Linked DNA regions of Homo sapiens. The protein of the gene in region 1 interacts with the protein of each later gene in a biochemical or structural test. Each region holds a gene or a part of one and is shown in the gene's direction. Other genes may lie near its edges.

Region 1 (7,000 bases):
CGCTGCATGCCCAGCTGCAGAGCGCGCTGGCCGGGCTGGGCCATGAGATCCGCACTGGCGTCCGCACCCTGGCCGAGCAGGTACCTTGTCCGACCGCACAGTCACCCCATCCCATCCCGTCTTCAGCCTACCTGGCTCCAGCAGCACCTGGGCCAAGGTCCAACCCTGACCCCTTCGTGCGTCTAAACTCAGGCCCTAAGGAACTCTTCCATCCCCGACTCATGCCCTGACCTCCCTCCTTCTTCCGTTTTGTGTCTCCAGTTGGAGGTGGGCATCGCCAAGCACATCCAGAAACTGGTGGGCGTCAGGGAGTCTGTCCTGCCTGAGGATGTAAGTGGCCCTTCTGCCTGCTGGCCTTCACCACCCTGCCAGCTCTGTAGATCTGGGGTCATTGAAGGCCTTGGTGTCAAAGATAAGTCCCCCAGACCAGGCAAAGCATGTTCTCTCCCTGGGCCTCAGTTTCCTCCTGGGATGCTCACAGGAACGGGTTGGGTCACTCCACTGGCTGTCCCAGCACTGACAGTCAATGAGGGGGCTGCAGTTGGGGACGGCTTAGACTTTGCAGCCAAACAGGCCAGGGTGCACATCCTTCTCAGCTGCCTCCTAGCTTTGCCGTCCTGTTCACACAAGCCAGCTGACCTGTAAGTGGGGGCATATCATGATGCACACCTTCGACTGGCGGGTAGAAGGATATTCATTCATTCACCAACTATTTATTAGGTCCCCACTTTGTCCTATGCATTGATTTAAGCACTGGGGATAGGTCAGTGAACAATATGACAAAATACCTGCTTTCCTGGAGCCCACGTTCTAGTAGTGGAGGTGAAAAAAGAGCTACATAGTGAGTATCCATAACTATAGTGATAGTTATAGCTGTTAACTCTATGCACAGGCGTGTATGCGCGTGCACACACATGCAGTGTGCTAGATAATGATAAGTCTACAGAGAAAATTTAAAACAGAGAAGCGGCTGAGAAGTGTCAGAGGGTTGTATTTTTAGATGGTGGCCAGGGAAGGCCGTGACAACTGAGCGAAGACCTACGGGAAGCAAGGGGAGGAGGCATGAGAAGTTCTAGGGGAGGAGCATTCCAGGCAGAGGGAACGGCAAGGGCAGAGACCCTGAGGCAGGACCATGCCTGGAAGGTTCCAGGGCTGTAGAGGAGGCCAGTGTGGCTGGGACAGGCTGAGCAACGGAGAGGGGAAGGCAGAGAGGTGGGCAGGCCGGCCTCTTACAGACACTACAAACTGCTCTCACAGAACGGTTCCCAGCCCTGTTTCCTCCCTCCAGGTCAGGGGAAGGGGATGGGGGTGGGGCCAACATGGGCCGGAGCCACACCTGCTCCCCATCTCCCTCCCCAGGCCATTCTGCCCCTGATGAAGTTCCTGGAGGTGGAGCTTTGCTACATGAACACCAACTTGGTGCAGGAGAACTTCAGCAGGTCTGTAGCAGCCCCTGCCCTGGGCGCGCTCGCCACCTCCCCCTCTCCTCCCACGGCCCCTCCTTCCTGGGCCCCAGCATCCGTTCTGAGGGGTGTAGCAGCCCCTGCCCTGGGCGCGCTCGCCACCTCCCCCTCTCCTCCCACGGCCCCTCTTTCCTGGGCCTCAGCATCCGTTCTGAGGGGTGGAGGTGAATCCCTTTGGTGACCTCCCTTATGGGTGCAACAGGCTCTGCTAAGGCTCGCTGCAGGGACGGGGAGCTTGCCACTTCTCAGGCCTCCCCATTTCCTGCTGCCTAGCTCTGAGTGCTTTGAGTTCTTCCTTAGGCTGAGCCAAAATCTACCTGTCCTTTCTCCTTTAGTCCCAGGCCTGTCTTCAGGGCCTCCCTGCCTGCTCCTCTGCCCCCATTAGGTTACAGGTGGTCCCTGCCCACGGTGCAGGGAGAACTTCTAGCTAGGGTGTCTTATAGCAGGGACCCAGCATGCCAGGCAACAGGCGGTGGAGTCCAGCACATGGGCTCTGGACCACCTGGGTTCAGACTCCGGCTTCATCACTGCTTAGCAGCCTTGGGCAAGTTCCCGGTGCAGATGAGAGTAGTTCTGGCTTCTGTTGAGGATTAAATGGGTCATGTGAGGTGCTGAGCGTGGTGTCAGTACAAAGGAAGTGGTCAGTGACTATTAGCGGTAGTGACGATGATGATGACAGCGCCCCACCTCCCTGTGGAATCTGGGCCCTGAAGAGGCCGCAGCCCTCCTAGAGTTCTGTTCCACCCCCAGAGGTATAAGCCAGGGCCCCTCGGAGCCCGGCCGTTTTTATTTCTTAAACCATGTATATATATTTTTTATTTTTTTGAGACGGAGTCTCGCTCTGTCGCCCAGGCTGGAGTGCAGTGGCGCGATCTCAGCTCACTGCAACCTCCGCCTCCGGGTTCAAGTGATTCCCTGCCTCAGCCTGCTGAGTAACTGGGACTACAGGTGCATGCCATTATGCCTGGCTAATTGTTTTTTTGAGATGGAGTCTTGCTCTGTTGCCAGGCCAGAGTGCAGTGGTGCAATCTTGGCTCACTGCAACCTCCGCCTCCTGGGTTCAAGCGATTCTCCTGCCTCAGCCTCCCAAGTAGCTGGGACTACAGGCACGTGCCACAATGCCTGGCTAATTTTTGTATTTTTAGTAGAGACGGGGTTTCACCATGTTGGCCAGGATGGTCTCAATCTCTTGACCTCCTGATCCACCCACCTCGACCTCCCAAAGTGCTGGGATTACAGGCGTGAGCCACCACGCCCGGCCTGGTTCTGTCTTAAATCATGGTTGTCACTGGGGGCCTGGCCTCCTCCCTGTCTCCAGCCTTGTTTGTGCATTCCGTTAGTGTGCTGGGGAGGGTTCCTCACTGAGGTTGAGAGGTGTGTTGGATAGGACTGATCCCACCTGCCCCTTGCTGGTCCTGTACCCACCCTCTCCCCAGCCTCACCTGGGGTGGGAGGCGGAGGGGGAGGTTGGGGGTGGGAGGAGCTGGGGTGGGGCTGGGTCACTGAGGCCGCCCCTTTCTCAAGAGCGTCTTTGCTTCCTCCTCCGCCACCGCCCTGCCGTGCTGTGTCCGCATCCCTCCGGCCCCGCCCCAGCCTCCTGACCCTGCTCTGGACCCACACACTCACAGTGCTGGTGGAGGCGGCCGCCTCCCAGCGCAGCTCATCCCTGGCTTCCAACAGGCTGAAGATTGCCCTGCAGGTAACAGAACCGGTCACAGCAATGATAACCCTGGTGGGAGGGTGCCTGGGGTCACCTCTGATATCTCCCCCAGAACCTGGAGATCTGCTTCCACGCTGAGGGCTGTGGCCTGCCACCCAAGGCCCTGCACACTGCCACCTTCCAGGTAGGGGCTTTGGGTGAGCTTCCCCGTAGGAAGTCTGGGGAGCCTGCCTTTTGGCACTCACCTATGTCCAGGGTCGGCTACATAATTTATGGGGCCCAGTACAAAATGAAAAACTGGGCCCCTTATTCAAAAGTTATTACAAATTTTAGAACGGTGACGACAGAACCTGAAACCAAGCCTGGGTCCTCCTAAGCACAGGGGCCCTGTGTGCCCGCATGGGGGGTGGGGTCGGGGAAGCACGCCTGTGAAGCCAGCCCTGTCTGTGCCTCTCCTGCTGTCTGTCTGGCCTGAGGGTGGCCCCAGCCCGTTGTCCCATGACCCAATACTTTCCATTTCAAACGGACATGTTACCCTTGACAGTGAGCTCCTGGAGGGCAGGCCTGGGCTGTGGTTGGGCGTGCAGTCCAGGTGGATCCTCAGCTGTATGTGTTCCCAGGCTCTGCAGAGGGACCTGGAGCTGCAGGCGGCCTCCAGCCGGGAACTCATCCGGAAGTACTTCTGCAGCCGAATCCAGCAGCAGGTGAGGCCCCTCCCTCGCACTGCGCCCTCTGCAGGCCCTGGAGCACCCCGCTCCCGCTGTGACCCTGCTGACCCTGCCCCTGCTCCCCACCCCAGGCAGAAACCACCTCTGAGGAGCTGGGGGCTGTGACAGTCAAGGCCTCCTACCGCGCCTCTGAGCAGAAGCTGCGTGTGGAGCTGCTCAGCGCCTCCAGCCTGCTGCCCCTGGACTCCAATGGTGAGTGGAGGCTGCCTTTGGCCACTCTCCATGGTCCCGTCCTGGCCCTCCTGTCTCAGCGACCCTGGGGGCTTCGCTCACCCTGCAGGAGCTCTGGGTGCATTTCCTCCAGTTACCAGGAGGGGTCAGTGCCGCTGAGCAGAGCATAGCTGCTGGGGTGGGGTGCCTGGGAGACCCTCAGCTGACGCACACTCCCCGGCCACTTACCAGGCTCCAGCGACCCCTTTGTCCAGCTGACCTTGGAGCCCAGGCATGAGTTCCCTGAGCTGGCCGCCCGGGAGACCCAGAAGCACAAGAAGGACCTTCACCCATTGTTTGATGAGACCTTTGAATTGTGAGTGGGTCCCGTTCTTCTCCCAGTCCCTCCCCTCATCTCTCCCCACTGGGCTCCCTCAGGCCTGCTCCTCCTGGCTGGGGCCAAGGGGCTCCCCTGAGATGGCCACATTTGGGCCCAAGGGATGGGGCATCTGGGACAAGAGTTTGCAGCTGGATGTGGTGGCTCACACCTGTCATCACAGCACTTTGGGAGGCCGAGGCAGGCGGATCACTTGAGGTCAGGAGTTCAAGACCAGCCTGGCCAACAGTCTCTACTAAAAATACAAAATTAGCCGGGCATGATGGTGGGTACCTGTACTCTCAGCTACTCGGGAGGCTGAGGCAGGAGAATTGCTTAACCCAGGAGGCAGAGGCTGCTGAGATGGTGCCACTGCACTCCAGCCTGGGCGACAGAGTGAGACTCCATCTCAAAAAAAAAAAAAAAAAAAAAGAGGGCCAGGCGTGGTGGCTCATGCCTGTAATCTCAGCACTTTGGGAGGCCAAGGCGGGCGGATCACGAGGTCAGGAGATCAAGACCATCCTGGCTAACATGGTGAAACCCCGTCTCTACTAAAAACAAAAAATTAGCTGGGTGTGGTGGGACACGCCTGCAGTCCCAGCTACTCGGGAGGCTGAGGCAGGAGAACCACTTGAACCCGGGAGGCGGAGGTTGTAGTGAGCCAAGATGGCGCCACTGCACTCCAGCCTAGGTGACAGAGCAAGACTCCGTCTCAGAAAAAAAAGTTTGCTTCCCTTGGGGGAAGGGGTGGACTCCCAGGTGTTTAACTTAGGGACTTCCAGGGAAGGGTCCTGTCTCTGAGGTTCTCAGTAACCTGCTCCTAGTTCCTCAGCACAGGTGAACAGGGAACACAGGACCGCTGGTTTAAAGCATCAGCCCACGGTCAGAGCAGGCATTGCACCACATGGCTGAGAGGTGCCAGGCTGAGAGCTGGCTTTGCAGTCCAAACCCTGGCTGGTTCCCAACACCAAGTGGGTGAACCCATGTGCCGAGGCTGGGGTGGCTGTGCTGGGGCTGGCAGCAGAGCCCTGACTCTCCCCGCAGCCTGGTGCCTGCTGAGCCGTGCCGCAAGGCTGGGGCATGCCTCCTGCTCACCGTGCTGGACTACGACACGCTGGGGGCCGACGACCTGGAAGGCGAGGCCTTCCTGCCGCTGCGTGAGGTGCCCGGGCTGAGTGGCTCTGAGGAGCCTGGTGAGGTGCCTCAGACCCGCCTGCCCCTCACGTACCCCGCACCCAACGGTAGGCCTGAGCCCAGGGCAGGGTGGTGCGGGGACGGGAGCCTGTAAAGCTCAGGCAGGGGCCCCAGAGAGGTGATGCCAGGGTCGGAGAACAGCTTCCCTGGAGACGGGAGCCAGTGGGACAGCCACGGCCCATCTCTCGGTCTAATCAAGAGACCAGTGAACTTTAAGCTAAGTGTAACGTGACTCTCCTTGCATGGGGAAGTCACCAAGAAGTTTAACTGGGGAGAAGGGCCTGGATCTCACTCGGCGGGGCCGCTTCCCTGCAGAGCATTTTTGATACCAGCAACGGTCTGATGCTTGTGCACTTATTATGAGCAAGTGCTAAGCACTTTATGCATTCCAGCCAACGAAGCAGATATTAGCACTCTTTTACAGATGAGTAAACCGAGGCATGAAAAGGTTAACTTGCTAGCTTTAGGTTCTCGTATAAAAAGGTAATAGTCAAACCTCAGGCACATCTCAGCCCCTCGCTGCAGTCAGGACAGTGTCCCAGCAGCACTCTGTCTGTTACGCGACCCGACCGGATGCGTCTGTCAGACCACCTCCTGGGCTGGGCTGGCGCGGGTCTGTCACTTGTTTCCTTCCAGGTTGTTGGGGAGATGGAGCAGTGTTGTGTACCCCCCCACACACTCTTCTCTGCCACCACCAGGCACTGCCCTCTCCCCTGGCATCTGACCCCCAAACCCCTCTCTCCGCAGGGGACCCAATCCTGCAGCTGCTGGAGGGCCGGAAGGGTGACCGAGAAGCCCAGGTCTTTGTGAGGCTGCGGCGGCACCGGGCCAAGCAGGCCTCCCAGCATGCCTTGCGGCCGGCACCGTAGCCGTAGAGGTTTGCGGTGGGGCTGGGTCCCCGGTGGGGACTTGCAAGGGCTTTCCTGTAGGGTCTGGGGCTTCCCCGCCACATCGCGGCCCTCCAGCCTGGCCTAACACTTGGGGAGCCCCAGCATGCGGAGTGCCCAGAGTGCAGACCTCCCCTGCCTCCCATGGTGATGGGGGCTCAGCAGCGACATCTCTACTCCCGCCTCCCTGCCTCCAGCCCTGGCTGCAATGTCTCTACCACATCCCAGCACCAGGGGGAGCAAACCCTGCCCCTGCCCGCCTCTCAGAAAAGCTGCTGTGGTGGGCAGGGGATTGGGCCATCTGTCTCCTGGCCCTGGCCCATCTGCCTCCTGGCCTTCCTGTTCCAGCCACTGGGGTGGGGGCCAGGTTCACTGGGACCAGGGCTACAGGCACAGAGTCTCCTGGAAAAGGGAGAGGGGACCCTGCCAAAGATGAGGCTCCAGCTGCCCTGGGGGGAGGGTGGTGGCCATTACTAGAGGGGGCCTGGGTCCTCTCCCCAGGGGCTGCCAGCATCCAGGCCAGGAAGCCTGGAGCCAAGAAC
Region 2 (7,681 bases), on another chromosome or scaffold:
ACTACAGGTGCAAGCCACCACGTCTGGCTAATTTTTCTATTTTTAGTAGAGACAGGGTTTCACCATGTTGCCCAGTTGGGTCTGGAATTCCTGAGCTCAAGGGCTCTACCTATGTTGGCCTCCCAAAGTATTGAAATTACAGGCGTGAGCTACCGCGCCAGGCCTCAGTTTCATTCTTTTGCATGTAGATATCCAGTTCTCCCAGTACCATTTGCTGAGGAAACTTCTTTCTCCATTGAAAGATCTTGACTATAGATGCATAATTTTATTTCTAGACTCTCAAGCCTATTCCACTTATCTATATGTCTTTATATCAATACCATAGGTTTTTTTTTTAATTACTATACCTTTGTAGTACATTTTGAAATCAGGAAGCATGAACTTTTTAAATTTTTGGGTCCTTTGCAATTTCATATGCATTTTAGCATACACTTTTCCATTTCTTCAAAAATGTTGTTGAATCTGTAGCTCTATCTGGGGAATATAGCCATCTTCACAATATTATGTGTTTGATTCCATGAACATTAAATGTATTTTCTTTTCTTTTTTTTTTATCTGAGAAGTTTCACTCATCACCCAAGCTGGAGTGCAGTTGCACGATCTCGGCTTACTGCAACCTCCACCTCCCGGGTTCAAGCAATTCTCCCGCTTCAACCACCCGAGTAGCTGGGATTACAGGCACCCACCACCACGCCCGGCTAAATTTTGTATTTTTAGTAGAGACGGGTTTCGCCAAGTTGGCCAGGCTGGTCTCAAACTCCTGACCTCAGGTAATCCACCCGCCTCAGCCTCCCAAAGTGCTGGGATTACAAGCGTGAGCCACCGCGCCTGGCCATGTCTTTTCATTTATTTAGATTTTCTTTTTTTTTCAGTAGTGGTTTGTGGTTTTCAATGTATAAATCCTGCACCTTCTTGGTTAAATTTATGCCTAGGTATTTTATTCTTTTTGATATTATTGTAAATGGAACTTTTAAAGTTTCCTTTTCAATTGTTCATTTCTAATACATTGAAATGCAACTGATTTTTATGTGTTGATCTAGTATCTTGCATCTTTGCTTATTTCATTTATTAGCACTAATAGATTTTTTATTTAGGATTTTCCATATATAATATTATGTAATTGGTTCCTTTTGTTGGAAAGGGATATTAAGAAATCAACATCCAGGTGCTAAGTGTACTCGTAGCTACTTTGATATAATTGCTTCTAGGACCTCTTAGCAGACAGAGCTAGATAATACATACATATACACATACATATATCTATATTTATTTATTAAAATCCATGAATTCTTACTGATTCCATCCACTTTAATTCTATTAGGAAAACTGGAGGCAGAACTCTCCATGTTGCAAGTAGCAGTGTCAGAAAAGCCCCAGTGTGGGAAGCAAGAGGTATACTGTGATCGATTCTGTGGCTGCAGTAAGAAGTGGCGTAGAGATGACTTTGAACTGACACACGAGATGTGTTCAGTGTACTTAGTTTCTGTAATAACACTCTCCTTGTTTTCTTCCTACCTCTCTGGATACTCTTTTTTTGGATTCCTTTTTGAACTTCCATTGCTCATGCCTTAAATGCTGGGTGTTCATCTGGGTTCTGTAACAAGCCTATTGCCCTCTCAGCTCACTTTCTAGATTAGCTCATTGATTCTAATGCCTTCCAGTACCTTTTGGGTAATAGCTACAGCACATGTTTTCTGTGCTTCAGATAGGCCTGTTTGACTACATACTAAACAGCTTCACTTGGATATTCTGTTGGTGCTAGTGTGTCAAAATGGAAATGTCCTAAACTCATCACTATGGCCTATTTCACCCTTCCTCCTGGTTGCAACTAGGTTTTCTTCCTGTTGCTTAATGGTTTCTTGTTGCCCAAACCAGAAACTGGGCATCCCCATGGACTACTGCCTCTCTTTCACACCCCTACATCCCAGTCCTCTTGATTCACTCTCCTAAATATGTCAAATATGTCCATTCATCTCCATCCTTATGGCCACTGCCGTAATCAGATCGCTATTATCCCTCACTTGGATTACAGCGTGCTAATTGACCTCTCAGACCCATTCTTAGAACCATTAAAAACTTGAGTTCTGAGTTTTAGGCCTGGCTGTGCCACTTATTAGCTGCATGATCTTGGTCAGACTGCTTAATCGCTTTAGGACTCAGTTTCCTCATCTGTAATACAGAGGTAAGAATAGTACCTACTTCATAAAGTAGTTGTAAGACACGTATGAGGTGATGTAGTCAAAACTATTAGCATATTGGCTGACTCATAGTAAATGATCAAGAAATGTTAGTTATGATCATGATCATCATTGCAGGGTTATTCACCGCACAGCCTCTGTTATTTCTCCATTTTCTTTTCTGATTGCTTTCAGTCTTTCAGCTTTTCTGAACCTCTTCCTGTTGCTCCAGTGTTGAATGCTATCTTTTGCTTCCAGGCCTTCCCTCTGCTCCATTTTCCTGGAATTCTCTTCTCCCTTGCCCCTTGCCCTCATTCATTCTAAGTTTATCCTTAACTTTCTCTTGATTTGGTGTCATTTATCTGTGCTCCAATAACACTCTTTAACTTCCTTTATTGAGGCTCTTATCTCACTACTGGAGTTGCCTACTTATTCGATGGTCTCTCAAGTAAGTCCTGACGTCAGGGACCAGTTTACCTTGTTTACTAATAGGGTGCCTGACTTGATGAATGAGTGAATGAATGGGTGATGAATGGGCCATAGCACCATCCTAGGTTTTCTGATCTCCTGTCTGGTATACTCCTGGTGAGAGCCTTGCCTGGCCACAGGAGTGGGGAAAGCTGAAGGCAGGCTTTCCCTGTGCCATATCAGCCATTAGCAATTACTACATTATTGGTTTCCCAGATTTTAGCTGATCAGTGATTCCCAGGACTATTCCTCTGGACATGAACATGAGGCTACCTTTTCCCTTTTTTTTTTTTTTTTTTTTTTTTTTTTTTTTTGAAACAGAGTCTCGCTCGGTCGCCCAGGCTGGAGTGCAGTGGCGCCATCTCGGCTCATTGCAACCTCCACCTCTCGGGTTCAAGCGATTCTCCTGCCCTCAGCCTCCTAAGTAGCTGAGACTACAGGCGCGTGCCACGACGCCCTGCTAATTTTTTGTATTTTTAGTAGAGACGGGGTTTCACCGTGTTAGCCAGGATGGTCTCGATCTCCTGACTTCGTGATCTGCCGGCCTCGGGCTCCCAAAGTGCTGGGATTACAGGCGTGAGCCACCTAACCCGGCCTTTTTCTCTCTTAACCTCACCAACAGTCTGATGGCCCTTCTCTCACACGGGAAGAGCTCTTGAAGTTATCAACCTGTTAGGACATTTGTTATCTCTAAACCCGAGTTTACTGTGTTATGTTTGCCTGGAAATGTTATATCAAATGTATGAAATTGCCAACTGTTTGTAATTTCATATGGTTCATCCTATATGTGATTTTGTAAATTGGACCCACCTGAGAAGCTAACTGCTGTAATGCCAACTGTGAGTAGCTACAGACTGGAAAGGTGATGGAGTTGACCGGGTGGGCCTGCGACAGCTGGAATTTGCGGTGGAGGTAGACACAAGTCAGCGAGACGGCTTAGAAGGCAGAAGGGAAGCTGAACTAAGGCTTCTCAACATTTTACTCTGCTTAGAAGTGGAAACATTTGGTTCAAAGGGCCTTTGCCTTAGACTCCATAGGGACAGGCCCAAGGGCTGCTGTTCACACCTCCTGGCCACTGAGAGGGATGAACTTGGCTGCCTCTGAGTGGGAACCACGAGGTCTGACCCCCTACGCAGTCCCAGGTTCACTACCCCGCAGGCCGGAGCGACACCGTTGGCGCTGGGAGAAGAGAGCCGCTGGGTGGCAGCAAAGGCGCGCAGGTTTCTTCCGACAGAGGCGGTTCCTTAACATACTGTAGTTTTCTTCTTTTTAAACTCATTGCTCTAACACTCTTAGAAATTTACAGTGGTTTTATATTCTTGAATTACACAGTGTGAGCAGAGACTCCGTTTGCCATTTCCTCCCGGAATTACATTGATTTTTTTCCTGCGAAATTTTTTACTTATTTTTCTCCCATGTTATTTCCAGGAATCCTGGGCATTCCCTTGCCCCGGAAACGCCGTGTCCAGGCCGACCTAAGCCAGGAGCCGCAGGGGCGGGAAGCCGGGGGCAGGGCCGGGCCTGGGACGCCGCCTCAGGAGCCGCGCGGACTCGGGAACCTCGGGCGGGGCCGGCGTGAGTACGCCCGGCACCTCCGGCTGCTACGGTGGCGACCGCGAACTGATGCCGTGGAAAACACCCTTAGAACATGGCTTTTTGGGGAGGTGAATAGGGGAGAGTCCCCAAACGACACCTCGCCGCGCACCGGTCCTTGGTGCAGTTTGTAAATGTCCCTCCTGTGTCCCAAAACGAAAACACTCCTATATTTTGTAGCGCCTTCCAGAATGGGGCAGCGGAAACTAGTGTTGGGACAAAGGAGGCGAGCGGGGCCTTTTCGGGGCTCACAGAGGACCCCTCGGAGGCGCGGCCGCCGGGGAGAGCGCGACAGCACCCCGCCCCCCGCCAGCCGGGCGGGGGCCGCTCCCGAGGTGACAGGAGAAGGCGGGAGGTGGAGGAGAGAAGGTCCCGCCCCACCTCGCTCTCCTTTACGGGAAGTGATGTGGGGCCAGGCGGAAAATACCCGCCAACGACCCAAAAAAGGCCGGCGGCGGGTGGACGCGGCGCGCGAGGACCCGAGCCAGGCGGGGACAGGACGGCGGGGCGAGCCAGGTGAGGGGGCCTGAGGAGCGGGAGGCGCGCGGCGGGTCCGGTCCCTCCGGGAGGGCCGAGCGAGGCGTCCCCCTGGGGCCGTCCTAGGGCTGGGGTCCGAGTGCGCCGCCCTTCCTCCCCGCCTCCAGGCGCCCGAGCCCGCCTGAAGAGTGGCTTCTCTCCCAGGCCCTCAGCGCAGACCCCAGTGATGACAACTGCCTGGTGCTGGCCAGGTGCGGTCCCAGGTCCGGCCAGGGTCTCAGATCGCCTCCGGGTTGCATCCAGGTGGGAGGATGCCCATCAGGGGTAGGAAACTTTCCAGGAGGGAAAGGAGGAAAGTCCCCGACCTCCCGCACGCCCCCCGGTTCATTCCTCCCTCTTTTGCTTTCAGTTTAACTGTTTAACCTGGTTGCCCTCCGGTTGGTGAGGGTCTGGACTGCAGACTAGCTGCGAGGGAGGGGCTCTCTCTTCTCCTGTCAGTTAGACTGAAAACTACCTGGCAGCCAGGCCCTCCGGTCGGGACTGGTGGTGGTGCAGATATGATGACAGGCTTTGGTAACTATTGCCAAAGCCTGTCTCTGTCCCAATAGATCACCAGTTCAGCAAAGTCAGGCCTGAAGCGAAGGGAGTCTTGTGAGCCCTGGACTGAGGAGCCTTCCCAGCCTTTCCGCTCCTGCTGGCCACCTGGGCCCACATGGCCTCAGGGTCTTCTGCCACAGGGTCCTTACCCCTACAGCTTAACAGCTGTTCTTTCCTTCTGGATGGATTCTCACATTTTATGGTTGGTTGATCAGTCAGATGTTGGAATTGGGGGTAGAGGGATTATAGAGTTGTGTGTGCTATTTAAGTTTTCTGTAATCATTGCTAATTAAATTTGTTGATTCTCCACTCACTGTTCTTGTTCTTTTTTTTTTTTCGGCCTTAAAAACTTGCTTTAGAGGGAAAATACAATCTGGAAAACAGTTTCTGCAGATGGTTAGAAGTGAAGAAAGGTTAATATAATGCTGAAGGAACTTGACTGAGGATCATTATTTTCTGTATTTTATGTTGGTTTATGTTGTTTTATGTTTTCATTCCTACTTTTTTCTTCCTTCCTTTCTACCATTCTCTCTTCCTCCCTCCCTCCCTTTTTTCTTCCTTCCTTAATTTCTGTGACGTGCCTTGATTTTTAATTTCGTTGAAGTATATTTAATCTATTTTTCCTTTTTTTTCTTTTGAGACAGAGTCTCACTCTGTCGCCCAGGTAGGAATGCGGTGGCATGATCTTGGCTCACAGCAACCTCCGCTTCCTGGGTTGAAGTGATTCTTTTGCTTCAGACTCCAGAGTAGCTGGAATTACAGGTGTGTGCTACCATGCTTGGCTAATTTTTGTATTTTTAGTAGAGGCGGGGTTTTGCTATGTTGGCCAGGCTGGTCTTGAACTCCTGACCTCAAGTGATCAACCTGCGTCAGCCTCCCAAAGTGCTGGGATTATAGGCTTGAGCCACTGCACCGAGCCTATTTTTCCTTTTGTTGTTTGTGCTTTTGATGTCAAAGTTAAGAAAACATTGTCAAATTCAAGATCATGAAGATTTATACTTATGTTTTCTTCTAAAAGTTTTATAGTTTTTAGCTCTTACATTTCATTCTTTGACCCATTTTAAGTTAATTTTTAAATATGGTGTGAGGCAGGGGGTCTGACTTCAACTTTTTGCATGTGGATATCCAGTTCTTTCAGCACCATTTGTTTAAAAGACTGTTCCTCTTTGAATAGTTTTGGCACCTCTGTTGAGATAAATTGACCATGAATGTAAAGGTTTATTTCTGGACTGTCAGTTCTATTCCATTGATCTGTATGTCTGTCCTCAGGCTAGTATCATACTACCTTGATTATTGTAGCTACATAGTGTTTTGAAATCAGGATATGTGAGTCCTCCAACCTTGTTCTTTTTCAAGATTGTTTTGACTATCCAGTCCCTTGAATTTCCATATGAATTTTTTTTTTTTTTCGAGATGGAGTTTTGCTCTTATTTACCAGGCTGGAGTGCAATGGCACGATCTCAGCTCACTGCAACCTCCGCCTCCCTGGTTCAAGTGATTCTCCTGCCTCATCCTCCTGAGTAGCTGGGATTACGGGCATGTGCCACCATGCCTGGCTAATTTTATATTTTTAGTAGAGACAGGGTTTCTCCATGTTGGTCAGGCTGGTCTCGGACTCCCGATCTCAGGTGATCTGTCTGCCTCAGCCTCCCAAAGTGCTGTGATCATAGGCATGAGCCACCATGCCTGGCCTTCCACATGAAATTTAAAGTCAGCTTCTCAATTTCTATTGTTTTGGTTCTAAAATAGATGTAAGGGTTTTAAAGTGAGCAACAATCTCTAGGAGCCAGATTTTTGAGTTTTCTCTCCCAAAGCTGCTTTTCCCCTAGTCTTCTCCATCTTAGTGAATGGCAACTTCACTCTTCCAGATGCTCACACCAAACACCCTGAAATCACTCTTGATTCTTTCTCTTATACCCCACATTAAATTCCTCAGCAGGCCGGGTGCGGTGGCTCACGCCTGTAATCGCAGCACTTTGGGAGGCCGAGACAGGTGGATCACGTGAGGTCAGGAGTTCAAGACCAGGCTGGCCAACATGGTGAAGCCCTGTATCTACTAAAAATACAAAAATTAGCGGGGCGTGGTGGTGGGTGCCTGTAATCACAGCTACTCAGGAGGCTGAGGCAGGAGAATCGCTTGAACCCAGGAGGCGGAGGTTGCAGTGAGCTAAGATCGTGCCATTGCACTCCAGCCTGGGCGACAGAGTGTGAGTCCGTCTCAAAAAAAAAAAAAAAAAAAAAAAAAGAATACATCTAGGATGATAACCATTTCTCACCACTTCTGCTGCTTCCACCAAGTTCTATCATCTCTGTCACCTGGATTACTGCAAAAGCCTTCTGAAGGGCTTCCCTGCTTCCACCCTTACTGC

Evidence for each region. Proteins that work in one complex are often made in the same cells at the same time.
Region 2: the proteins of UNC13D (region 1) and RAB27A form a complex in vitro, tested with the Homo sapiens proteins (one study listed by BioGRID).

What each region holds. Positions count from the first base shown.
Region 1 is NC_000017.11:75,827,405-75,834,404, reverse strand, and holds part of UNC13D (protein unc-13 homolog D), read left to right. Parts: coding exon 1-80; intron 81-261; coding exon 262-330; intron 331-1,359; coding exon 1,360-1,439; intron 1,440-3,056; coding exon 3,057-3,162; intron 3,163-3,235; coding exon 3,236-3,307; intron 3,308-3,743; coding exon 3,744-3,827; intron 3,828-3,922; coding exon 3,923-4,043; intron 4,044-4,253; coding exon 4,254-4,377; intron 4,378-5,421; coding exon 5,422-5,618; intron 5,619-6,318; coding exon 6,319-6,440; 3' UTR 6,441-7,000. UniProt on the Homo sapiens protein: Plays a role in cytotoxic granule exocytosis in lymphocytes. Required for both granule maturation and granule docking and priming at the immunologic synapse.
Region 2 is NC_000015.10:55,286,789-55,294,469, reverse strand, and holds the start of RAB27A (ras-related protein Rab-27A), read left to right. Parts: upstream 1-4,656; 5' UTR 4,657-4,754; exon of another isoform or gene 4,755-5,018; intron 5,019-7,561; exon of another isoform or gene 7,562-7,681. UniProt on the Homo sapiens protein: Small GTPase which cycles between active GTP-bound and inactive GDP-bound states. In its active state, binds to a variety of effector proteins to regulate homeostasis of late endocytic pathway, including endosomal positioning, maturation and secretion.